Linked DNA regions of Homo sapiens: all the other regions are linked to region 4. Evidence: fine-mapped QTL for protein levels in blood plasma. A gene starts in region 4. Each other region holds a variant in brackets. All regions are shown on one strand. Distances are from middle to middle.

Region 1 (5,109 bases), 340 kb before region 4:
CCACTAAATTTTAACTAGAATTATAATTCAATATGGTCCTTGGAGTGAAAAAAAGGTCACATTTTAAAAGGATTTATAAAACTTCCCTAATTTACATGTTAAAAATGAGAAATTTTGCCGGCACAATATTGACAGTTCTCGATTAAAGAAGATTAATTTTGGAGGGCTTATTTCATTGCTATAGATGTGCATGCTTATACATGTGTACATATTTATGCACACACATGCAAAATGATTCTGTATTTAATAGCATATTTGGAAAGTCAGCTATAGTTATTTCCATTGGCTGAATTAGATAATGTAAATCTTAACCAAAGTCTGGCTCATGCTACGTGATATTAGAAAATTATACATAATTTAATGTAATATAGAATAATGACTAGCAAATCTTCAGATTAGAATATTTGATTTCTTTTTTTATGTGTTATCTTTACACTGAGTCCAATCTTTGTTCTCTTCCAGACTCTGAAAATTTCTCTCTCTCTCTCTCTCTCTCACACACACACACAATTTGCATATGGCATATATTGATAAAGGGAGCAAAAGAATCTTTGAAACTTTGCTTTGATGTTCTTGAAATGATGGTGGAAGAGTCCATGATCCAATGAAGATTTCTGATATCAATTGTGATTGGAGGAACCTTACTGAGATGAGTTCAGTTTTCTCAAAAATGAAGTTGGTGTGATCATCGCGATATGACAGTCTTCAGTCTATCTGCAGCATTGAAGGGTCAGGGAATGGTGAATGGTATGACATGTAGAGCTTCCTGAAACTCAATGAATTTCCAAGGATTAAGTTGAAAGGAAGCTAAACTACTTGATTAGTAAAATCAAAACAATACAGGACTGGCAAATAGTCCTGTTTCAACTTGATTCACAACCATAAAAAAATCACATAATTGTCAATATTTATCAGCCTCAGAGTCTACCTACTGTCTACCTTGATAGACAGATTTATTTTCAGGAATTTTTTATAAAATGATATGCGTCTACTAACATTTCTCACATTTCCCACAGATAAATGTGTGGGAAATTAAAAAAAATCAAGATTTTGAGAAAACTGGCTTGATTCCGAGCTAATTATAATTACTAGGAACTCATAATATTATTGTGAATGCCAATTAGAGTAGAGCATTTTAGAGTAAAACCTTTGACTCTTGATCCTTATAATCTTCAATCATTTTTTCAGGTCCTAAAAATATAACAAAAATTTTATTTTCTAACAATACTTTCTTAGCCTATACAGAATATTGTAACATAAAGAAACAGCTGGATATCAATGGAACCCATCCCAGCCAAATCACCATTATCATTATTAGTGTCATTATTACATCATCATTACTGAGTTAAATATAAAAGGATATTTCAGTCATTAGGGGCTAGGAAGTCACAGGTACAATAATCTCTATGATAGTCCAACTTAATTCTCCAGTTCCCTTAAAAAAAAAAGTTGGATATTCTTAGAAAATCATCTAAAATGATGATGCAAATTTGACTTTTGTTACAAATATAACTGATAAAATGGTATGGTAGACAAAATAATGGTTTCTCAAAGTTTTCCATGCTCCAATCCCCAGAATTTGTGAAAGTATTCGATTATATTGCAAACAGAACTTTGCAGATGTAATTAAGTTAATGACCTTGGTATGGGAGGGACATCCTGGATTATCTAGGTAGGCCCACAATAACAACATAGATCCTTAAAAGTAGAGAATTTTCCCAGTTGTGGAAGGAAAAGAGATGAAAAGACAGAAGCAAGGTTAGAGAAACACTATGTTGCTGGCCTTGTAAATGTGAAAGGGGACTATGAACTTTTCCATCTCTAGAGGGTAGAAAAGGCGAAGAAGTGAATTCTCCTCTAGAGCTTTCAGAAAGCAACATAGCCCTGCTGGCAGTTGATTTTGGCCCAGTGACACTAATTTTGAACTTCAGACCTATGGAAATATAATATGATAACTTTGTGTTGTTTTACATCACTAAGTTTGTTATACCAGCAAATGGGAAAGTGCCATATATGGCTATATCAACATAGCCTCTGATATCTGAAATGCCGCTATTGATGGGGATAGCACATTCTATATGGTAAATGTTAAAATCCCCATTTGATTTTCTTGCAGTAAAGTAAGAACAGATTTTACTCTACCGCCTCAGTGACATGTTAGTCCTTGCATTTCATGCCTCCTTGTGGTCCACATGGTCCGCAATGCCCTCATCATCACACAGAACATCATTCTGGTCCATCATCCTAATGCTATCATGCTTGTAGGACCTAGAGAGCAATAAGGAAAAAAAAAATCTGATATTTTTAACACCCATGTTTGTCAGAGAAAATATATCCCATCAAAAAAGGACCTGCTACATCAGTAAAATTATTGGTAGAAAAATGACACAGTAAAATAGGGTATACAAATAGCTGCTTATCAGTTCTT[C/T]GAAGGAAGAAGCTCAATGCTGAGGACATAGAGGCAGGCCCTAAAATATTGCCTGATGAAAATTATTTTCTTTATAACTCAAATTACTTTCAAATACAGTCCTATATAAGAGAAAGGCCTTGCACCATTCCATGTTTCAGAGTACAACTCTGAAATTGCAGCTTCGTGACCTGGTAAATTGTGTAAAGTTCAAACACTGGCAGATTACCGAGTTGGGAAGTCTCAAACAGGAAACTTGTAAAAGAAAAACCGAAGAGTTTTGATGAAGATCATACATATATTAGCAATAATCTTTTCTACTATTGAAAATAGCTCTGGAATTATCTTAGGACTTTAGTGGAAACTGAATATCAAACCATTTGGGAATTATGTGATCATGTTCTTTAAGCTGCTCATTCCAAAATAATGCTATCTAACAAACATTGTCATAATGTTAGGTAATTCGTGTAATACTCAATCATTATAAAAAGATCACAGCTTGCATAAGGTCTGAAGGTACTAACGCATTTCATATGTGTAAGTTTACTCTCTGATATGCATACGCCTTCAAGGTGGTTTCTTCATGGTGAATTTACATCAATGGCTCAACATCCATGTTTAAGGATGATAAAATTGAAATGTCTTTTTAATTATGACTGGTCGAGCATATTGGATAATTATTTTGGATTTTGTTTGCTTTCCCTTAAAGTCGGAGTCTTACAGATTGATTGGATCACTCTAAGATTTGCCATATGCTCTGAATTGATGACATGTATTTGGTATTTTCTGTCCCACTCTTAATGCCTAGGTCAGCACTCTTAATTTTAGACAATAATATACTGCAGCTATTTTAAGAATAGAGATTATAACAGGTTAGGAGTCAATTTACAAAGTAATTGAAAAGCTGGAGAAACTAGATCCTTCCATGAACAACTCACCAAAAAACACTGCACACACAACTGAAATGTCCGTAGCTTCCACTGTTGCCACCAGACCCACGTACCCCTGCTATCACCCTTAACAGCTACATTGACTTAATGTGTCCTAAATTTTTTTCATGTAATTAAGTTCCACATCATGGTATTCCTAGTGGCAACAGAGGCTTGGGAATTTAACTTTATTATTATTCTTATTCCGAATTTGAAGAATAGAATTTTTTATTATTTACTTTATTATCATTATTTATTTTGTGTTTGAACGGTGAAAATGTAGGAACCCAATGTCCAGGTCTTGATTTCTAGAAATCATTCTCCAAAAAAAGAAACCAGGGCTCCTTGGAGAAAGCAGCCTCTAGGCCTGGGATAGGAAAATACAAGAGGACCCTGGAGCATCTTGTAGTGCCAGGAAAGAAGGAAGTACATCCCTGGAGGGAGGATGAAGGCAAACAGAGATTACACAAAGAATTTTCAATGGCCAACAATTTAAATAATGTAGTATTGGATTATAACTCAAAATATAAAATGTGTTTACATGAGTCCATAGTAAGAACGATTAAATAAATAGATAAATAAATAAATAAATAAATGGAGAAAAGGGAAAAATCTCTCTTACAAAAAAAATTCAAATGTTAGATATAGATACTTTCGCTTTTAGGAGGTGAAGCTGAATTCCCCTCCCTCTGAGTGTAGATTGAATTTAATGGCTTGTTTCCAAAAAAAAAAAAAAAAAACCACACACACACACACACACACACAGAATGAAATGAAAAAAATACGAACTTTACAGTGGAGAAATCTGGCAAATACTACCTAAACCAAGGGATCAATGCTAGCATAACCAGTAATGAGTTATATTGATAACATGAGATATCATGAGAAAAATGGCAGACAGACAACATTTGGAGACATTCTGCAAAATATTTGACCAATATTCTTCAAAACTGTTAATGTCACAAGATATAAGTAAAGACTGAAGAATTGTGACAGGCAAGGGGAGAATACAGAGAGATCGTGCCTAAGTGTGGTATCTTGAATTGTATTGAACCATAAAAGAACATTAGTGGAAAGCTTGCTAAATCTTAATAACCTGTGCAGTTTAGTTGATAGTAGTAAGCTGTGATAATTTCTTAGTTTTGACAAATGTTCCATGGTTAATATTATATATATATACACACACTATATATATTATATATGTAATATATTATATATGATATTAATCTATAACATTTTACATTAACATTAAGAGAAACTGATTGCAAGTTCTATCGTAACTGTACGCTTTCAACTTTTCAAAATAAAACTAAAATTATTTCAAAACAAAACATTTATTTAAAAATGTAGAAGTCTTCAAAAATTTTGTGCTGCTTGTACACTTCTTAAATATCAAATATTATAGATTGATTTAGAGATTCCCTATTTCTCCTCAAGAAGCTTGAATATCATCATCTTAATTCAAATAATTGTACAAGTGTTCCTCCCATTCATTCATTCATTATTTAAGAAAGCCTAATTTTATTCATGCTAGTAAAAAAGCCTTTTTAATAACAGGTTTATTTACTGATTACATTAATACTGATTGCTATTATACTATTAATATTACTGATTCACTAATACTGATATATACTAATAAGTGGTACTTATCTATAATTTTCCCTTTGTGTGTGTGTCTTTGTGGGTGTGTGCTTTGCCTGATTGTCATAGCAGGTTATAAAACTCTCAAAGAAACAGGATGTTTCCTTTGTTTTTTATGCATAGAAATTTTTT
Region 2 (5,109 bases), 1.1 Mb before region 4:
CAGATACAACAGTGGTTTTTCTTGCTGGGGGCTGGCACATTTACACTTCGAGAAAGCATTTTTCATACTTTTTGTGGTGGCTTCACCCCTGCTGAAAGTGAGTCCATGCTGCTTGGGCTTATATGAAGGGTGTGGCCCAATTCCCCTTCTCTACACAAAGCAGCAGCATCCCTGCAATGGAGGATGGATACCTCACAGAGCTGCCTGCTCTGGACTGGAGGAAGAGGCTCTGTCCCATGCGCATTTTAGTGGTAGCCATAAAAGAAGAATATCTATTACCCTCACCTGCACTGTGGCTGGGAAATAAAGGAATAATTCTTTATAAACTGGTTGTCACAAGCCCTGCGATGGGACACAATAGGGAAGCAGATTGCATTTCTGCTGGCTCAGGAAAAGAAGCCAGCTCCTGGCTTCTTCCCTTGAGAGCTCAGAGCAACCCAAAATTATCTTTTTCTGCCACCCTCCCAATGGTGCTTCCATTTATCATCAGCCTAAGGGTGAGCCAGCTCTTAGTCCAAAGCACCATCAACTGTACTGCAGCCTGAACTGTACCCCCAAATAAAAACCCTACTGCCAGAAAAGCTTAGTGCTACTCCATGAATAAGCTTCTTGAGACTTCTATACATTCAGCCCTATAGGAGTTTGTATATCCGTGCATATGTCCAATATGTTGCTGCAATAAGCAACATCTGAGAAAACACTGTACAAAAGCTATCCACAACCCACAGAACATGTACAGATCCTTAGCCAACTAAACATATCCAAACATGAAGACAAATAATCATATGCAACATATATCACAGTTACAACCTCAAAGGAAGAAAGAATTTTAAAATATATAAAAGTTACATCCAAATGATAGCAAATTCAAAAATAAGAAGCAACATTTTCCTCAGATGAGAAGGAATAGCATAAGAACTCTGGCAGTACAAAGAGCCAGAGTATGTTGACACCCCCAGATGATCACACTAGTTTTATAGCAATGTATCCTAACTAACCTGAAAAGTCTGAAATGACAGACAGGAAATTCAAAATATGGATTGTGAAGATACTCAATGAGATCCAACATAAAGTTGAAATCTAACATAAAGAAACAAGAAAAGTGATTCAGAATGTGAAGGACAAGATAGCTATATTTGACCAAAAAAATAGAAATTCTGATATTGAACACTTCCTTAAATTTTTTTCAAAATAGAGCTGGAAGCTTTAACAATAGGCTGGACCAAAAAGAATGAATTTCAGAGCTTGAAGACCACTCTTACAAATTAACTCCATCAGAAAAATTAAAAAATAAAAAATAAAAAATAAACAAGACTTGGAGGAATATGGGATTATATAAAATGACCAACTCTATGGTTTATTGGTGTTCCTGAATGAGAAGAAAAAATAGTAAGCAATTTGGAAAACATATTTGAGGAAATAAGTCAGTAAAACATCCCTAACCTTGCTAGACAGGTTAACATCCCAACAGAAGAAATTCAGAGAACATCCGCAAGATACTATATAAAATGACCATCCTCAAGGCATATAATCATCAGACTATCCAAGATGTGTGTGAGACAAACATCTCTTAAAGGCTAGAGAAAAGAGCCAAATTGCCTTTAAAGGAAATACCATCAGACAAACAGCATATTTCTCAGCAGAAACTTTGCAAGCCAAAACAGATTGTGGATCTATTTTTAGCCCTTTTAAGGAAAAAAACTTGCCAGCAAAAAATGTCATATGCTGCCAAACTAAATTTCAAAAGCAAAGGAGAAATAAAATCTTTCCCAGACAAGCAAATGCTAAAAGAATTTGTCACCACCGGACCAGCCTTACAAGAAGGGCTCAAAGCAGTTCTAAACATGGAAACAATAGAATAACACCACATAAGAACATAAGAGCACGTAAATACAAAGCTTACAAATCCTATATAGCAATTACACAATTCAGATCACAAAGCAACTAACAACACTCTGAAAGGTACAAGATCTCACATATAAATATTAATATTGAATGTAAATGGGCTAAATATTCTACTTAAAGCCATAGAGTGGTGAATTAGTTTTTTTTTTGTTGTTTGTTTTGTTTGTTTGTTTGATTTTAAATGGCCCGACCTTCTGCTGCATTTGAAAGACCCATCTCATGTGTAATGATAGCCACAGGCTCAAAGGAAAGGGATGGATAAAGATCTATTATACAAATGGAAAACAAAAAAGAGCAGCTGTAGCTATTTGCTGTATTAGATAAAACAGACTTTAAAACAACAACAGTAAAAAGAAAAAACGAAGACAAAGAAGGGCATTTACAATGATAAAGGTTTGAATTGAACAAGATTTAATCAACTTAAAAATATACATGACCAACATTGGAGTACAAAGATTTCTAAAACAAATACTATTAGAACTAAGAAAAGAGATACACATCCATACAATAATAGTGAGGAACTTCAACACTCTGCTGATGTCTCTAGACACATCATCAAGGCAGAAAACTAACAAACTCTGGATTTAACTGGACTCTTGACCAGTTGGATCTAATAGGCATCTACAGAATACTCCACCCAATTACCACAGAACATACATTTTTCTCATCTGCACAAGAAACACTCTAAAATAGATCACATGCTTGGTCATAGAGCAAGTCTCAATAAATTTAAAAAAATCACAAACATAGCAAGCATATTCTTGGACCACAGCAGAATAAAATTAGAAATCAATACCTAGAAGAACTCTCAAAACCTCAACTATATGGAAACTAAATAACTTGCTACTGAATGATTTTTGAGTAAATGACAAAATTAAGATAGAAATAAAAAACGCTTTTGAAACAAATAAAAATAGAACATGTCAAAACTACTGAAACACAGCAAAAGCAGTGTTAATGTAGCATTAATGCCTACATTAAAAATATAGAAATATCTCAAATTAACAACCTAACATTGCACCTAAAGGAA[C/T]TAGAAAAACAAGAACAAACCAAACCCAAAGGTAGCAGAAGAAAATACAAATTCAGAGCTGAACAAAGTAAAATTGAGACCAAAAATAAAACTTCCAAAAAATCAACAGAATGAAAAGTTTGTTCATTGAAAGAATAAACAAAATTGATATACTGCTAGTTAGATTAACCAAGAAAATACTGAGAAGATTTAAATAAGCAGAATTAGGAATGACAAAGTTAAAATTATAACTGATAGCACAGAAATACACAAAAAATCCTCAAAGACTACTATGAATATTTCTAGGCATAAAAACTAGAAAACCCAAAGAAATGACGACATTTCAGGGAATATGCCACTCTTAACATTGAACCAAGAAGAAACGGAAATCCTGAGAAGATCAATAATGAGTTACTAAATTGAAACAATAATAACCATTTACCAACCCCCAAAAAAAGCCCTGGACTAGACAAATTCAGAGCAAAATTCTACCAGATGCATAAAGAGCTGGTATCAATCTTGCTGAAACTATTCCAAAAAATCAAGGGATTGCTCCTTAAATCATTCAACAAAACCAGTATCATCCTGATACTAACATCTGCCAAGGAGAAAACAAAAGAGGAATGCTACAGGCTAATATCCCTGATGAACATAGACACAAAAATTCTCAACAAAATACTACCAAGCCAAATCCAGTAGCACATGAAAAAAGATAATTTATCATGAGCAAGTGGGATGCAAGGGTGATTCAACATACACAAATCAGTAAATGTGATTCACCACATAAACATAATTCAAAACAAAAACCATGTGATGATCAAACTATCCACAACATCCCCTTTACCTAAAGCCTAATATAGAGACAGTACCTAACTCTCTTCAATTTCATGAAGGCCAAGGGAGGTGAAGAAACTACAGAACACAAGTTTGAAGCTAGAAGAGGTTATTTCATGAGGCTTAAAGAAACAAGCCATCTCCATAACATAAAATGCAACGTTAAGCAGCAAGTGCTTATGGAAAAACTACAGCAAATTATTCAGAAGAATTAGTTAAGATAATTGATGAAGGTGGCTAAACTAATCAACAGGTTTTCAATACAGACAAAACAGCCTTCTATTGGAAGCAAACAGCATCTAGGACATTCATGGCTAAAAGGAAGTCACTGCCTCATTTCAAATCTCCAAAGACAGGCGAATTCTCTTGTTTGGAGCTAATGAAACTGGTGACATTACCAATGCTCCTTTACCATTCTGAAAATCTTCAGGCCCTTAAACATGCTAAATCTACTCTGCCTGTGCTCTGTAAATAGTACAACAAAACATAGATGAAAACATACCTGTTTACAGCATGGTTTACTGAAATTTTAAGCCCACTGTTGAGCTCTACCGCTCAGACAGAAATGTTCCTTTCAAAATATTACTGTTCATTGACAATGCACCTGGTTACCAGGAGCTCTGATGCAGATGTATAAGGAGATTAATGTCGTTTTCATGCCTGCCAACACAACATCCATTCTGTAGGCCATGGGTCAAGAAGTAATTTTGACTTTTGCATCTTAATATTTAAGAAATAGAGTTTGTAAGTCTATACCTTCCATAGACAGTGATTCCTCTGACAGATCTCAGCAAAGTGAATTGAAAAACTTTTGGAAATAATTCACCATTCTAGATAACATTAGGAATATTTGTGATTCATAGAAATGTTAACAGGAGTTTAGAAGAAGTTGATTACAATCCTCATGGATGACTTTAGGGGTTCAAAATTAAAGTGAAGAAAATAACTGCAGAGGTAGTGGAAATAGTGAGAGAACTAGAATTAGAATTGAAACCTGAAGATGTGACTGAATTGCTGTAATCTCATGATCAAACTTGAATGGATAAAAGTTACTTCTAATCAATGAGCAAAGAAAGTAGTTTCTTGAATTGAAATCTACTCCTGGTGAAGATGCTGTGAACATTGTTGAAGTGACAAGACATAATTCAGAATATTATATACATTTTATTGATAAAGCATTTGCACAGTATGAAATGATTGACTCCAATTTTGAAAAAGTGCTACTGTGCATAATATGTTATCCAACAGCATTGCATCCTACAGAGAAATCTTTCAGGAAAGGAAGAATCAATTCAAGTGACAAACTTCATTATTTTCTTATTTTAGGAAATTGTCACAGGCATTCCAAACTTAAGCAACTA
Region 3 (5,109 bases), 91 kb after region 4:
GAGAGAGAGAGAGAGAAGATCTTACTATATTGCCCAGGCTGGTCTTGAACTCCTGGGGTCAAGTGATCCTCCTGCTTCAGCCTCCCAAAATGCTGGGATTATAGGCATGAGCCACCACACTCGGCCCCATTTCCCTTTCTTTCTTCTTCCCACTACTAATCTTTCATGCCGTCTGCATTTCAACTCATTTCACTTTTTCCACTTACTCATAACACTTAGCCCACTGTATTGCATATGTGCTCTTCTCTCGTTTTATTTTTGTCTATCGTAAGGCTTTTTGGAATTCCAAACAAAATGATAAAGCCATTCTAAACTCTTTAGGATGCTAATTGTCATTAATCACATATTTTTATTTTCTTTTCTACATTTTTAGGCGTCTAGTTCCTTATCTCTTTTGATGGCCCAAGTTGTGCTGAAAAGATAGCTTCCAATAATACATACAATAGCAAGAGAGTAAATATTACAGAAAAAAATGAGGGGGAAAAAGCAAAAGAAAGAAAAATTAGGATCATAAAACTGACCGAGGAAAGAATATATTCACTGAAGTACTGTGCAGACACACAGTGTTCACTTTATAATTGACTTTAAACTTTCTAACAGCCAAGATGATGAGAGAAATGTGCTGCACATGGCTCATAGTGGCCAGGGCATGCCTTTATCAAAATAAGAACAAACTGTTTCTTATCCTAAAAAAAGAGAAGCATTTCTCCTGAAGGTACAAATAAAGAGATCAGTAGAGTGGAGGAGGCACATTGGAATTAGCTGGGGTTTTTAAAGAAATACCAGGTATAGGTTCCATCCCAGATCAATTAAATCAGGATCTTTGTGGGTGGACACCTAGAATTATTACTTTCTATAAAGCACTGAAGGTAATTATTAAGGGCCCTGAGGTTTGAAAACACCTGACCTGCTCCATACCTCTAAAAAGAGGACTGGTTTCTAGACTTGAAGCAGCTAAATACCATTTGTATGTACTTGTCATTATCATTCTCTTGGGTTTTCTGATTTCTAAATCAAAGCACTTGAATTAGTTACTTTAAAGGGTCTTTCAAATATTGCAATATTTTTCTCTTAATTTTTCCACTGGCAAACTTATCTTACCTTAGCTCTAACAGGTTCTGTGCTGTAAAATTTCCAGAAAAAGCTAAGCTATGCATGGATTGTTACCTGTAGCCATCATAATTAATGGTCAGTTCTGGCAATGTGAGCCAGACACTTTGTATGACTAAATGCTGGACCCCAGGAGGTACATTTAGTATTTCAGACAATAATTGACTAAAAGTGTTCTTGTCATAAATAAGTAGCCGCTGATGCTAGCAAGCATGCTCTTTTCTGATTTAACCCTTCCTTAAACTCCAAGAATAGTGTTGTTTTAAAAAATAACACAATGGGCGGGGGGGGGGGGGTGATCAAAAAATCACATTTTCAGTAGCAGAAGGGAATGCAGCTGATGGAATTATCCTATGAAGTTGTATTTCAGAGAAAGAAAACTATTCTATCCTGTCACAAAAATAATTGCAAGCACCAAAAAAAGCGTACTTGAAAATATTTCAGTTGGCTTAATTATTAACTGTTTATCATTTGTGACCAAATGTCAGCTGATGTGAACTGCTTTGGACTTAATGAAAACATAATGACTTTATTTCAAGGGTTCATATGCAGAGTCAGATTGGGTACTGCAGAGCAGATGTCGTGCTATGGTGAAACCTGAACCTATTATGATTGCCTCTCAACTGGATTGGGTAACCAGATGTACAAGTCGTGCACTTTGAAAAGCAAAACTGCTGATTATCAGGACACTTCTAATTTTAAAGTAGTATATTTAGTATAATAGTAGTATATTTGAGATATGTTCGAAATCTTACAATAGTGCATTTCAGTAGCCACTGCAAACTCAAGAAATAGCAGATTACAAGTAAGTTCCTAAATG[G/A]TTTCATTTTAGTCACAGAGAATTGAGAGAAAAAGAGATGAAGTCGGATAATTTTGTATTATCACTCTGTTAGTTTCATTGGTAACTTCTGTGCTGGAATCAAATGGGGAATTTGCTCTGATTGCAATATCCAACTGTGCTGAATCTCTGAGCGATTAAGACTTGGTAATAGCGGTTAAGAGTCAATAAGGCTGCTCACAGATTCAAATGGCAATGTTGAGCAGTCAGAACAAAACCCAAATTATTTTAATGAAGCAAATTTGATTCACACATAGTGTGACAGCCGATGTCAGAAGAAAGTCTTCAGTTAATGTTTCAGATGGTTATGTTATTACTTGGGTGATTTGACAGAATTCACCATGGCTTATGCAAAATAAGACATGGCAGATGTCAGGGCAGAAGAAGGTGCACATGTGATAGGATTGACTAGAGTTTTGCCCTTGAGAATTGAACGGAGTGGCATTTCCTTCCTGATACAGGTATTATCTTACTGCTCTGGATCCTTACTATACAAGATTCATTTTCTCAATCACATAGACATACATACTGTTGATATTGTTTTACATTATTTTACCTTAAACCATAACTGTTCCACTTTGTTTCCTCGGATAATTTTGTGTGGCTTGATCAAAGTATTTACTTACTCTCATATGTATAGGCTATTTTCAATAATATATTAACATATTAGCAATAAGTTCAGTAGTTCTGTTAACAGTGGAGGGTATCCAGGTTCTTGGTGTCTTGAACAAAGAATTGGACAAAATGCACAAACAAAGCAAGGACAAAGGGATTTACTAAAAATGAAAATACCCTCCACAATGCGGGCGCAGGCCTGAGCATAGGAGCTCAAAAGGCCCCATTACAGAATTTTTGGGAGTTTAAATACCCCCTAGAGGATTCCATTGGTGACTCGGGGTACGCCCTATGTAAATGGAGAGGATGAAGTAAAGTCACAAAGTCGTTCACTTGGCCTATGCCCTCTGGAGCAGATATTTCCTGTCATAGCTGAAGTGTGAATGGGCCTTATGTTCCCTGCCTCCAGACCCTATTTTCCTTCCTGCTTCAGTTCAGATCAACAGGTGGCACAAACTGTAAATAAAGCATGAACAAACAAAACCCGTTATAATAATATTTTTAATATTTCCTGCAATTTACATAAGTCACATGAATAATGGGCACCCTGTATTGTGTGCTTATGGTGTGCTAGATAATATTCTAAACAGGCCAGATATTTCAGCCTGTTTGGTTCTCACAACACTTCAATGAAATGGGGATGTGTTCTTTTTGCCATTTTGTATAGGAGGACATTGAGGATCAATGAGACAGAGTACTTTGCTCAGAAAATTTCAAATAAATAGTAAAGATAGAATTCAAAACCACTTCATAATATATAGAAGTCGGTGAATTTTTTTTTAATTTAGCTAAAGTGGACTTCTTCCCAGTCTGCTAAAAATTCTTATAAATACCACTTTAGGTAAAAAATCTCTTTCTCTCTGTGTCATAGAACATGATTTATGCATGACTACTGAAAATAAGACTGGAATCAGATTGTTTATGGGCATTCCTTTCAGCTTCAAAAATTTTTAGAAATTTTTTACATAGAATTGAACATATTTCCTCTCCTTTTTTGGACATTTTTGAGATGTGCTTTTTTTGGTAAAAGCCAAGTAATCAATTATGGACAAAGCAAATCAAATAATCCCTGTGGCTGATGACATTTTTAGGCCAAGCAACTTTTTTAGTAGCTGAAAGAGACCACCAGAGAAGGAAGAATTTCCTTTTATTTCTGTATATAAATAGGACATTAGTAGCTTTAGCAGACTCTGTAACAATAGCACTACCTCTCACTATTGCAGACAGAGCTGAAAAAAATGTGGAGAGGTTAAATGTTCTAAAATGTATTATAAAATTACATGTCTCAGAAGCTGAAAGCCAATTTCCATTACAACACAGCTCTGCTGTGTGTAGAAGTTGAGTCATCTCTATTTTGGTAAGTGTTCTTTATCACCAAAGATAATTCATGCTATATTTTCATCTTTATGATGGAGGCACGAGGATCACCCCAAAGTTTTTACCTACGAAATTGCACTTGACAAAGCAGGCTGAGGAAATAGTGACAGATACTCTGGTACATTCCGTTGAGCTTACAGTTTGAGGTTTCATACAAACGATATGATTTAAATAGTTTACCACCCAGTTATCTTCCTTATATTACTACCTGAATATGACTTGGCTCACCCGTATCAAGCCCTGGCTCTTCACAGGAATGACAAAATATTTACCGAACAAAATGATTAGATTAGAAGTCCCAGCTTCTCACATTGCTACACAGCAACACTGCAGGATAAATAAATATAGATAATTTTCTTTTTTTTTATTATTATACTTTAAGTTCTAGGGTACATGTGCACAATGTGCAGGTTTGCTACATATGTATACATGTGCCATGTTTGTGTGCTGCACCCATTAACTCATCATTTACATAATGATTTATGAAAATTATCTACAAGAGATAAACCTAATGTAGATAATTTTCATAAATCATTTTATAGAAACTTTTATTCATAAACACGTTGTGTAAAATGCAGACACAGAGAAACTAGAGCCACAGATATTTTGATGTCTATTACTATTACTATTCTTATAAACTAACCTTTGTAAACTATCAAATTAATGTCCAAGTGATTGATTCAGACTGGAATTTGAGTCTCCATTTCATATATAACATAACTATTATTATTAACTAACATTTGTAAAATTTGGAAAATATAAAATTATTTACATTTGTAAAATATAAAATTAAAATCCAAGTGATTGATTCAGACAGCAATTTCAGTCTCCATTTCAAAGAGATTAGACCATAATATCTGCCTGAACTACACCATTTATATAGAGTTTAGCTAGCCTATATTTCCAGTGAGTACAATTTAATACAGCATATTGAATTCTCAAAGTATAAACTCTCCCAAATTTTCTTACTTTAGCATTATATGATGCAACAAACTCAAAGGACCACCTGCAGGTCTAGACTATAATGTCATGTGGAACACAGGCACACATGAAGAGAAACAGGCACTGCAGTGAAGGGTTGATTCTTCCCCACCTTATCACTTACACAGTCATGCGTCACTTGACAATAGGATAAGTTCTGAGAAATGTGTTGTTAGGCAATTTTGTCG
Region 4 (5,109 bases):
TGTGATGATTTTTTTTTTCTCTTCTCTAACCTTCATCTTGTGTTCAAACTAAGATTTCATTTATGAGCAGGAGGTAATAATGGGTTCTGCCAACACGTGAAGCTATCCTTAGCAAAGAGAAACAACTCCGTTTAATAATGATGTTAAATAATTATTGCTAAGCTATGTGTTGCGACTACAACATGACTTTGAAATGACTACGGTATGATTAGAATAAGAATATGATATAACTGTGGTGCTTATGAAATGAACTGGAAAGTGGCTGTGCTGCTATGTTTATTGTAAATGTATCACAATGATGGTTCATTTATTTAAAAACAGTGCAGTGCATAAAATAGGTGACAATTGGAACAATGTACTAGCTTTAATTGTAGATTTTGTGAATGGCAAAATGATCGTTTACTGTGGTAAGATAAAAGAATCATCCTTTCATTCACTGACATTATTCTGTGAGGCAATATTTTTCTTTTCACTTTGGGATACTTGTAAGTCCTTTCTATTCTTGAATTTTATATATTCTAATCATACAAAATATTACTATAATAAAAGTTGCTTTGCTATTTAAAAAATATCAGTCTATTATCTGCAAGGAAAGTATTTTATATTTTACATATAAGGGATTAATGGATTTTACAGTGGGCTTTTAGACACTGCAGTTGAACTGTGAATATTAACTCAGAAAAGTTTGAATTAAAAAGAGCTTACAATTTCATGTTGGAAAATTGTGATGTCAAATTAGTTGGTTAAATCATGTCATTATTTATTCAATATATGGCTTAGTAAGCTTGATTGGTGTTTTTTTTTTTTTTTACTTTTCATTTAAACGTCTAAAAACAAATGTTACTTAAAAAAGAAAAAAAGCAAACAAAACTATTGTACTCAAAAACAAGGGGTAATCTCCAACACGCCCTCAGTCAAGAGCTTAAGTATGTCAAGAGCCTTTAATGCCTAGGCAGCCCATTATAGAATGGGGAACACACAGGTTTAAAATAAATGCCCTTTATTCTTCCTGTAAGTTAGACCAAGTTATTCAATCATGTACTAAGACCTTCTCTGACAACCTTTATAGGTCATTCAGAAAATAAATTTTTGTTCCAAGTGAACTGTTCCTATGTTAATGCTTCAAACTTTACTCAGGTATCAGGCGTTAAGTACAAGCCATTACACAAACCTTTGTGGTTTACTGACTTTGAAAGATCAATCAAATATATTACTAGATAGTGCTTTGGGGGTCAGTATTTGAGAAATAAAGCTGTATTTTTTGGGGAGTCATTCCATCCAGTTCCCGTATGAAAACGAGAAACTTGTGAGGATTTAGTACAGAGCTGGAGTCGGAGAAATGAAATGCACGGGAAAAGACGAAAATCACAGGAAAGAAAGTTGGAATCAGCAGAAAGTGCCTAGGGGAAAGGAAGTGTTCCACAGCTTGGGAAACAGCTGCCTGGGACTCCTTCCAGCCCCTCGGAAGCAAAGTTCGCAGTGAGGTGGGCTGGAAGCGGGTTTTGCAGCAGCCGCGAGTCCGGGCTCAGGTTTCCAGGCGCGGCTGGAGCAGAAGTGCAGGGACCGCCACGATCCACCGCCGCGGCCGGTCCCGCTCCGCTAGAGGAGACTTCGCACGCGCAGCCGACTGGCCCGGGCTGACCGAGGGGACCCAGACGCTGCCACTTTCTCTTTCCAAGGCAGTTTCCGTGGCTCTGCATGTAGGAAGTGCTCCGATTAATTTTCTTTCCGGTCTCCGCAGAGATTCCAAATTCTGCGGTCCCCACCTTTCGCTGTACTCCCTCTCCGCCCTTCTTTCCAATGTCCCTGCCAGCAAAAGCCTCTATTTGCAGCACCGGGCATGTTGTCCGTTTAACGCGCTCCGGGGATCTGCTGGCTCGTGCTCCCAACCCAGGGGTGGCTATACGTCTCGCGCCTCTGTTCCTGGGTAGACTCCCCCATCTGTGCATTTTGGCCCCTTCACTTAGCAAAGAGATGTGCGAAGTGTGCGCCTGGAGACGAGCCGCCTCGGTGACCCCCATCCGCCCGCAGCGGTGGCCCTGGTTCCCCGGATCCGCGCCCGCGCCCTGCGGGTCTCCCGCGCCGCCCTTGCCCGCCGGACCACCCGGGCTCAGAGGGTCGCTCGCTTTCAGCGCCTGCGAGCGCCGCTTCCGCCCGGGCCTGGGGAGCGCCAGCGCGTCCCTCCCACGCCGGACCCTGCAGAGCATGCTCAGTGCACCTCATGGAACCCGGCTCTCCTGGGGCCAGGATCAGATTTCCGGGTTTTCGCTGCTGCCGAGGGGGCGCGGAGGAGGGGAGGCTGGGAGACAGTCAGCGCCTTGTTCCGCGCTCCCTCCCTCGCGCCGGGCTGCGGCCGCCCGCGCCGCAAGATGCAGGCCAATCAGAGCCCGGGGGCGGGGCCTGGGCAGTCACGCCCTCCCTCTGGGCTTATTGAGAGTTATATCAAGAAATTCAGTTCAGAGAGAGGAGAGGGAGAAGGAGAGAGGGGCAGAGGGGAAGGGAGAGAGGGAGAGCACGCGAGACGGAAAGGAGCGCCTCAGAGTCTCTGAAGCACGCAAGAGATAACCGATTAGGAATTTTTCGGGCAACTGTCACCCGGATAGCTGTCAGAGAATCATCATCACCGCAACTCTGACGTTTCCTACAAGAAGTTAGAGACTTAAGCAGTATTGGCATCGGATGGAAATGGTATGCATGCTGCTGTGGAAAATATCCCTGAGCTGAAGAAGTGCAACTATGTGTTGTGTGTGCTAAATGCCCAGAAGAACCCAGACCCAGTGGGTAAGAGAGACGAAATGTGGAGAGAATGACTAACGACAAATCCGTGAATTTGTTCTCTGGAGTTGCTAATTTGCCAGCCCGAAGCAACACATTTTACAAGGAGGAAACATTTTGCTGCTTCTGATTTCTCCCCAAACTGGTGCTACCAGATGCATGGCTTTCTATGTGTTGGAACAAATCATTCCTAACTGCAGCATACTGGGAAAGGGGAAAGGTTGAGGCAACTAACGTAAGTGTAAAGTTTCGCATGCACAATTGTAAATTCTGTGTTTAGATGTGTCCTCAGTGTAGGCGAAAGATGCTTGTAATTGGGTAGACGGTTGGGGCAGAGCTCACCTACTCGGCTGTATCTGCATCCCTACCTGCATCACTCTGCCGGAACTAATCGCGGGCATCAGCTACTGTGCAGCCTAATGCAGATAAGATTAGAGCCTGAGAACTGACCAGTCCTACTCAAGTAGGTAGCTGCCTGGAGCCTTGCACCCATTTAAACTGCAGTTATCTAAGCAGAAGCCTTTTTACCTGCATGATTGGGTTGCAGTATTTATGTGTGGCAAATGTTACTAATATTCTAACCAGAGATCAGGATTAAGAAATTGCATTTTTTTTCTCTTTTATGTTCAGTAGAAAATATTGTGATGTTACATGGGAATGTTAGCTGCGTTTCACTTATATCTCGGCACTCTCTTCCACCTCTAGGAAAATGAATCCTATATTATTATACATTTTTAAAAGTTTTAATGTGTTTATGAATCCTAATGAGGATAATTTGTCAATATGGAGAAAGGAGAGCAAGCTGTGGGCAAGAAATCTGAAGTCTTGTTGTTGTGCTTTTAGGCAATGAGGATGTGTAGAGGCCGGTGACTATTGCTTCTGATGCCGCTGCAGCGGCATGTCCGGATGCTCGTTTCCCAGTAAGATTGTATTAGAAGGCAGTTGAAGAACTGGGAGGAAAGAAAAAGATAGCCTTTTTAGAAAAGATAGGTGACTCAGTGGGGCAGAGAAGAAAACACATTTGACATGTGACAAAGCAATTAGCAGGAACCGTAGCTAAATACTTAGTGTTTTTCACTTGCACCTGAAAAGACTGAGGGAGGTAGGTTAGAGGCTAGGAGGAGGGTGAGACAGGGGGAGGGGAAGAGGAGAACAAGAATGCATGTTTTGAATTAAACAGTATTCTGAAAAACAACGTGCGTGAATATAGGTAAAAATAGCAGCTGTCCTTAATTCAAAAGTAGAAAATTTTATTTTCTCCCGGCAAATGCAACCAGCAGGAGATATTTAGTGTTTTTCTCCACAGAGTAAACTTGCAAACAGTGGCAGAGCAAACTGCCATGTTTACTAATGTTCAGGGGAAAATGTGTGGTGATATTTTGTGACGGTGTGTTTTTATTTACTGAAGAATAATATTGTCTATACAATTGTGTTGACAGCGGCTGTCTCCAAATAAGTGATGAGATATAATGCATCCTCCAGTCCATGCACGCTTCCTCTTGCAATTTGTGCATCATTCCTCAGTGGAAACCTTTAAACCCTAAAATCCAGGAAAAGAAAATAAATACATTATCATGGACCTGAGGGATTTTTACCTGTTGGCTGCTCTGATTGCCTGTTTAAGGCTGGATTCCGCAATAGCTCAAGAACTTATTTACACTATTAGAGAGGAATTGCCTGAAAATGTGCCCATAGGAAACATACCAAAGGATCTGAACATTTCTCACATCAATGCTGCCACAGGGACCAGCGCCAGCCTTGTCTACAGACTGGTTTCTAAAGCTGGGGATGCCCCTTTGGTGAAAGTTTCCAGCAGCACTGGGGAAATTTTCACAACCTCCAACAGAATAGACAGAGAAAAACTCTGTGCTGGCGCCTCATATGCTGAGGAGAATGAGTGTTTCTTTGAACTTGAGGTGGTGATCCTCCCCAATGATTTCTTCAGGCTGATCAAAATAAAAATAATTGTCAAGGATACCAATGATAATGCCCCCATGTTTCCATCTCCTGTCATCAATATTTCCATTCCAGAAAACACTTTGATCAACAGCCGCTTTCCAATTCCATCAGCAACAGATCCTGACACAGGCTTCAATGGTGTACAGCATTATGAATTGTTAAATGGGCAGAGTGTTTTTGGACTGGATATCGTGGAAACTCCAGAGGGAGAGAAGTGGCCACAACTGATTGTTCAGCAAAACTTGGATAGAGAACAGAAAGATACCTATGTGATGAAAATCAAAGTAGAGGATGGAGGCACTCCACAGAAATCCAGTACGGCCATACTGCAGGTCACAGTAAGTGATGTAAATGACAACAGGCCAGTGTTTAAAG
Region 5 (5,109 bases), 1.5 Mb after region 4:
AAAAAAGATCTAAAGAAAGACTAAATAAATTAATGGATCTACTTGACTTGCTCATAATGGCAAGATAATTCTTAAAACTTTAGTTCTATTTTGGTTTGGAATTCTTTATTTCCAGGACATTAGGTATTACTCAAGAAAATATATTGCAATATACTGCAATAAACAATTAAAGCTTTTCCACCTCATACTAAATTTTGTACTCACACATGTCAAATCTGCGATTCAGTTGTCTGGTTTGGAAAATAGAGAGACATCTTGGACAAAGGCAGATATCCTAGCAGTTATTAGGTTTATTTTTTGGGGGGTGGGGGTGGTGTATGTGTGTGTGTGTATGTACTGCCCATTGGAATTTTGAGCAATAGCAGAAATGAGTGAGTGAATGCGAGTGTTTATGTGACTGTGTCTGCAGATGCTGTTGCAGCCCAGCGATGTTTAATTGTTACTGTGGTTTGGACATGATTTGTCCCCACCAGAACTCACATTAAAATTTGATTCACAATGTGAAGTGTTGGAAAGTGGGGCCTACTGGGAAGTATTTGGGTCATGGGGGTAGATCCCTCATAAATAAATTAATGACCTCCCTCCGGAATTAATGAGTTGTTTCTCTTACTGCAATGGATTAGTTTCCTTGAGAATGTGTTGTTAAAAATCTGGCTTCTTGGATTTCTCACTCTTGCTTCCTCTCTTGCAAAATAGTCTCTGCATATACCAGCTTCCCTTCCACCTTCCACCGTAAGTTGAAACAGCATGAGGCCCTCACCAGATGCAGCTGCCTATCCTTGAGCCTTCCAGCTACCAGAATCATGAGCCAAATAAACCTCTTTTTAAAAAATAAATTACCCAGCATCAGGTACTCTGTTACAACAACATAAAATGGACTAAGACAACTGTGAATATGCTACCAGTCCAGTCTTAGACCTGTCAATGGTACTTGATAGACTACACACATCTATGAAAACTTTTCTGGAATGTGCCTTTTCACTGGATCAAATACATAGTAATGTAAAATCTCTTCCTCTTAAGAGTGTTTGAGCTCTTCATTTGAAGCTGGATGTAAATTATTTGGTCTTTTGTTAAATAAATATCAGAAAGCATTATAGGTAAGAAAGATGCTTCCTAATAATCAGGAGAAAACCTTCTACCTGTTGTGATGTTTATAACTCTTTTTCTTTTACAAAGAATCCCAATCAACCTAGCTTAAGCAAAATTTGTATCTACTTACCAGAATGTATAAGTTTAACGAAGAATACAGTGTTAGGAGTTCAGCTTTACCTCTGGTTTGGATGAGAACTGTTGATAGAGCACAGTAGAAACTAAAAAAAAAAGAGATCTGTCTTGAGTGTTCCTTGAAATATCTCTACATTTCAGCTCTACTCTCTTTGGGAAAGCTAGCTTTTATACTTTCCAGACTACATTTGAAAATGGCCCTCATCGTGGATCATGCCGGCAGGAGATCGAGACCATCCTGGCTAACACGGTGAAACCCTGCCTCTATTAAAAATACAAAAAATTAGCCGAGTGTGGTGGCGCACCTGTAGTCCCAGCTGCTTGGGAGGCTGAGGCAGGAGAATCACTTGAACCTGGGAGGCAGAGCTTGCAGTGAACCGAGATTCCGCTACTGCTCTCCAGCCTGGGCAACAGAGTGAGACTCTGTCACAACAAAAGAAAAAAAAAAAGAAAATAGCCCTCATCTACAGGTGCTGACTTATTTTCTTCATTCAAGTAAATTCCAAAGCCAAATTTTCAAATGAGGCATTTTAATTGGCTAATCTTCATCAAGGTGCCTTTCTAATGGAATAACACTGTCATATTAAGTGACCACATAGTTTTGGCCTGCAGCAGAGTCAAGCTTGCTTCTACTGCTTTCCTGTAAACAAGGGACCTGGGGAAAGAGCAATCCCCAGTATGTGGTGTGTTGACCTTCTAGGGGAATACTACAGTTGAAATCGTTCTATACTATGATATAGGAAATCAGTTCTCAAACTTTAGTCTGCATTAGAATGACCTGAAGGGCTTTTTTTAATAAACAGATTTCTGGGCCTTATTCCCAGAATTTCTGATTCAATATGTCTGGGATAAAATCCAAAATGTGCATTTTTAAAAAGCTGCCAGAGAATTTTCTTGGTGCTGTTGGAGTCCCACACACTTGAGAACGAGTGATACAGTGCAGTGAGGACACACAAGCTAGAAGCATGTCTCAGCTTTGTGTCTTGCAATGTAACAGTAGTCCATGAAATTAAGGGTGACTAAGTCAACTGAGTTGAACTTTTTCAGTCAATTAATCCCCAACTATTTTTGAAAACAACATGCAATTCCTATGGCCTGTCTGATTTCTGAGTTACATTCAGAAACTGACACTTATAGAGGAACATGTACCATATTTGTTTTATGTTTTAGAATTAACCAGTGGCTGGGCCCTTTCTTTCTCCACAATTATTTTCCAACTCATAACTCTATTGCAACATTTTTCTTTTGATCTGATTTTCTAATAGATAGCAGAAATCTATTCTCAGGGACTTCTGGTTTTACCTCTGACTTATAAAAAGTTTGGAAGTCAATACTCCCATTCTTACAAAAAGAAAGAGCTGGACTTTCTAGAAAACAATTGCTTTTCTTTGACGCATCAGAGATTTGAAGTCACAGGGCAAACAACTACACCAAAATCTAGAGA[G/C]AGGTGAATCCACAGTCATAATCAGGCTCCTACCTGGAGCAGAAGCTGCTGGAGCCATAAACTAGTAGGAACATTTAAATTGCAATTTTTACAAATTATTGTAAGCTATGTGGACTAGCAGGAGAATGAGAAACTCCTGGAGTTGCACCATATGGTGGAAACATTTTTTTTTTGTGAGCTTTGCCATCAAGAAAATATCAACAAGTATCCTGTAAATGTCATTGGGTTTGAAAGGAGAAGCAAAAGGGCGTAGAACATAAGGAATATTTGAAATATTAATGAAAAATAACTTTATAAATTAATTATAGACACCAAACTACACTTCAGGAAGCTCAGAAAAAATAAGCATGATAAATTTAAAAAGAAAACCAAAACAGGCATACAGTATTCAAACTATAAAAAAGCAAATACAAAGTGAAAATTGTATAAAGCTGAGAGAGGGGTTTCCCACAGAAGAAACAGGATAAAAATTACAGTGTATTTCTTATCAGAAACTATACACACAAGAAAAAAAGTGAACTGAAATATTTCATGTTGAAAGAAAAATACCCAACAATCTAGAATTCAATATCCAGTAATATTATTCTTTAAAAGTACAGAAGAAATAGATGTCTGAGACAAACAAATATGGAGGAAATTTATTGCCAGCAGAACTGGCTTGTTAGAAATGTCAAAACAAGTTTTTCAGGTAGAAAAACAAATCTAAAGTAGGAAACATATCTATGTAAAGAAAGAAAAAGCATTGTGGAAAGAATAAATGAAGATGAAACAATGTATTTTACTTTTCTTATACTCAAATGATTTAAAAGATAATTATTTGTTTAGAGCAATAATAATAATAATGTATTAGGTAATTATATCACAGGAATAAATGAAATAAATAATAGCAATGTCATAAAGAATGGGAGAAATGAATTGGGAATATATTGCTATAAATTTTCTCCACTGCAGATAAAATGGCATAGGGTTATTTGAAGGTGGATTAAGGTTAATTTAAAAATACATTGTAAACTCTAGACAACAACCAAAAAAATTCCTAAAAAGTAGTCCAATTGATGAGAGGGAACAAAATGAAATCATGTAAAATGTTCAATTAAACCAGAGAAGCATAAAAGGAAGAGAAAAAAAGACACAAAGAACAGATGCCAGGAATAGAAAATAGTTATTAATACAAACATGATAAATATCAATCTAATTATATCATAGTAACATTAACTATATCTCTAAATGTATCAATTGAAATCAGATTTTCAGAGTGGATAAAATACAAACGCAATTATGTACTGTCTTCAGTAAACCCTCCTTAATATAAGATCTCAGAGATGTTAAAAGCTGTAAGTTGTAACATGCTAAAATTCAAAAGAAAGTTCCAGTAGCAGTGTTAATTTCTGACAAAGACAACTTTAGAACATGGAAGCCTATGAGAAAAGAAGAAGAGTATTATGTACAATAAAGAGGTTAAGTTTCCCATAAAATATAAAAATCCCATATATATATATATGGCTCTAACAAAAATTACTAAGGCTGTAGGTGACCTGAACAAGATTTTTAACCAATTTAAATAGCTTTTATAATACACTCTATCCTACAGTGGCAGAATACACATTCTTCTGAAGCTCACATGAAACATTCAATAAAATAAACCTCATCTGATCCATAAAGCATGCCATAATATATTTAAAAGGATAGGAAACATAAGATATATTCTCAAACCAAAATGGAATTATATTGGAAACTAATAAATTAAGACAGGTGGAAAAAATATGTATTAGCATATTAAATAACACACTGCTAAATAACCCAGAGATCGAAGAGAAGGTCTCAAGAAAAATTTTAAAAATATTTTGAATTTGATGAAAATAAAAGTAAAACTTATCAACTTTTATAAGAGCAAAAACAATGCTGGGATGAAAATCTATATTGTTAATTTCATCTATTAGAAAAGATCTAAAATTGATTATCTAAACTTCCACCTTAGGGAACCAGATAAAGAAAATAAAATTAAACAAAAAACACATGATATAATAAAATTAGAGCAGAAATAAATAAAATAGATAACAGGAAAATAATAGAGAAAATTAATAAAAACAAAAACTTATTCTTTGAGAAATTCAATAAAACTGATAAATATTTATCCCAGGCTATCAGAGAAAAAAGAAAGAAGACATAACCAAAGTAAGAAATGAAAAGGGGTTATCATATGGATTCTTTAGACATTAAAAATGTTATAAAAGTACAAGACTAACAACTCTATGCCCAGACATTTGATAACGTTTTGTTATTAAGGAATAAACGAATTCTTGGAAATACCTAAACTGTCAAAATATACTCAAGAGGAAACAGATAATAGTCATATCCCTATTAAAATGTATTTAATTATTAATTATCAAAAAAGAGAGATCCAAGGGTCCAGATGGTTTCACAGGTGAATTTTAGCA

Direction of the effects. Positions count from the first base shown, and alleles are read on the strand shown. Strength reflects both the effect of a copy and how common the allele is.
As copies of T replace C in region 1, the plasma level of the protein whose gene starts at base 2,454 in region 4 goes up (weak association).
With allele C in place of T in region 2, the plasma level of the protein whose gene starts at base 2,454 in region 4 is lower (weak association).
In carriers of allele A in region 3, the plasma level of the protein whose gene starts at base 2,454 in region 4 tends to be lower than with G alone (moderate association).
For the plasma level of the protein whose gene starts at base 2,454 in region 4, allele C in region 5 goes with a higher level than allele G (weak association).

Evidence for each region. PIP is the chance, under the fine-mapping model, that this variant and not a neighbour inherited with it causes the effect. Protein levels are from antibody-based Olink assays in UK Biobank. Linkage for the fine-mapping came from a reference panel and not from the study's own genotypes, which makes the PIPs less certain.
Region 1: its variant is fine-mapped to the plasma level of the PCDH9 protein (UK Biobank, PIP above 0.99).
Region 2: its variant is fine-mapped to the plasma level of the PCDH9 protein (UK Biobank, PIP above 0.99).
Region 3: its variant is fine-mapped to the plasma level of the PCDH9 protein (UK Biobank, PIP above 0.99).
Region 5: its variant is fine-mapped to the plasma level of the PCDH9 protein (UK Biobank, PIP above 0.99).

Annotation. Positions count from the first base shown.
Region 1 is chr13:67,566,504-67,571,612 of GRCh38, reverse strand. No RefSeq gene overlaps it. Among named protein-coding and RNA genes, the nearest start is that of LINC00364, 200 kb to the right of the region's middle. The variant C/T (reference allele first, on the strand shown) is at 2,429.
Region 2 is chr13:68,316,253-68,321,361 of GRCh38, reverse strand. No RefSeq gene overlaps it. Among named protein-coding and RNA genes, the nearest start is that of LINC02342, 560 kb to the left of the region's middle. The variant C/T (reference allele first, on the strand shown) is at 2,936.
Region 3 is chr13:67,136,323-67,141,431 of GRCh38, reverse strand. All of the region lies in intron 2 of PCDH9 (protocadherin 9), which reads left to right. Among named protein-coding and RNA genes, the nearest start is that of PCDH9, 91 kb to the left of the region's middle. The variant G/A (reference allele first, on the strand shown) is at 1,931.
Region 4 is chr13:67,227,681-67,232,789 of GRCh38, reverse strand. PCDH9 (protocadherin 9) reads left to right here and starts at 2,454. Exons shown (of 5, transcript NM_203487.3): 1 at 2,454-3,010; 2 at 4,215-5,109. The coding sequence starts at 4,350. RefSeq lists a silencer at 2,044-2,183.
Region 5 is chr13:65,742,008-65,747,116 of GRCh38, reverse strand. No RefSeq gene overlaps it. Among named protein-coding and RNA genes, the nearest start is that of LINC01052, 120 kb to the left of the region's middle. The variant G/C (reference allele first, on the strand shown) is at 2,672.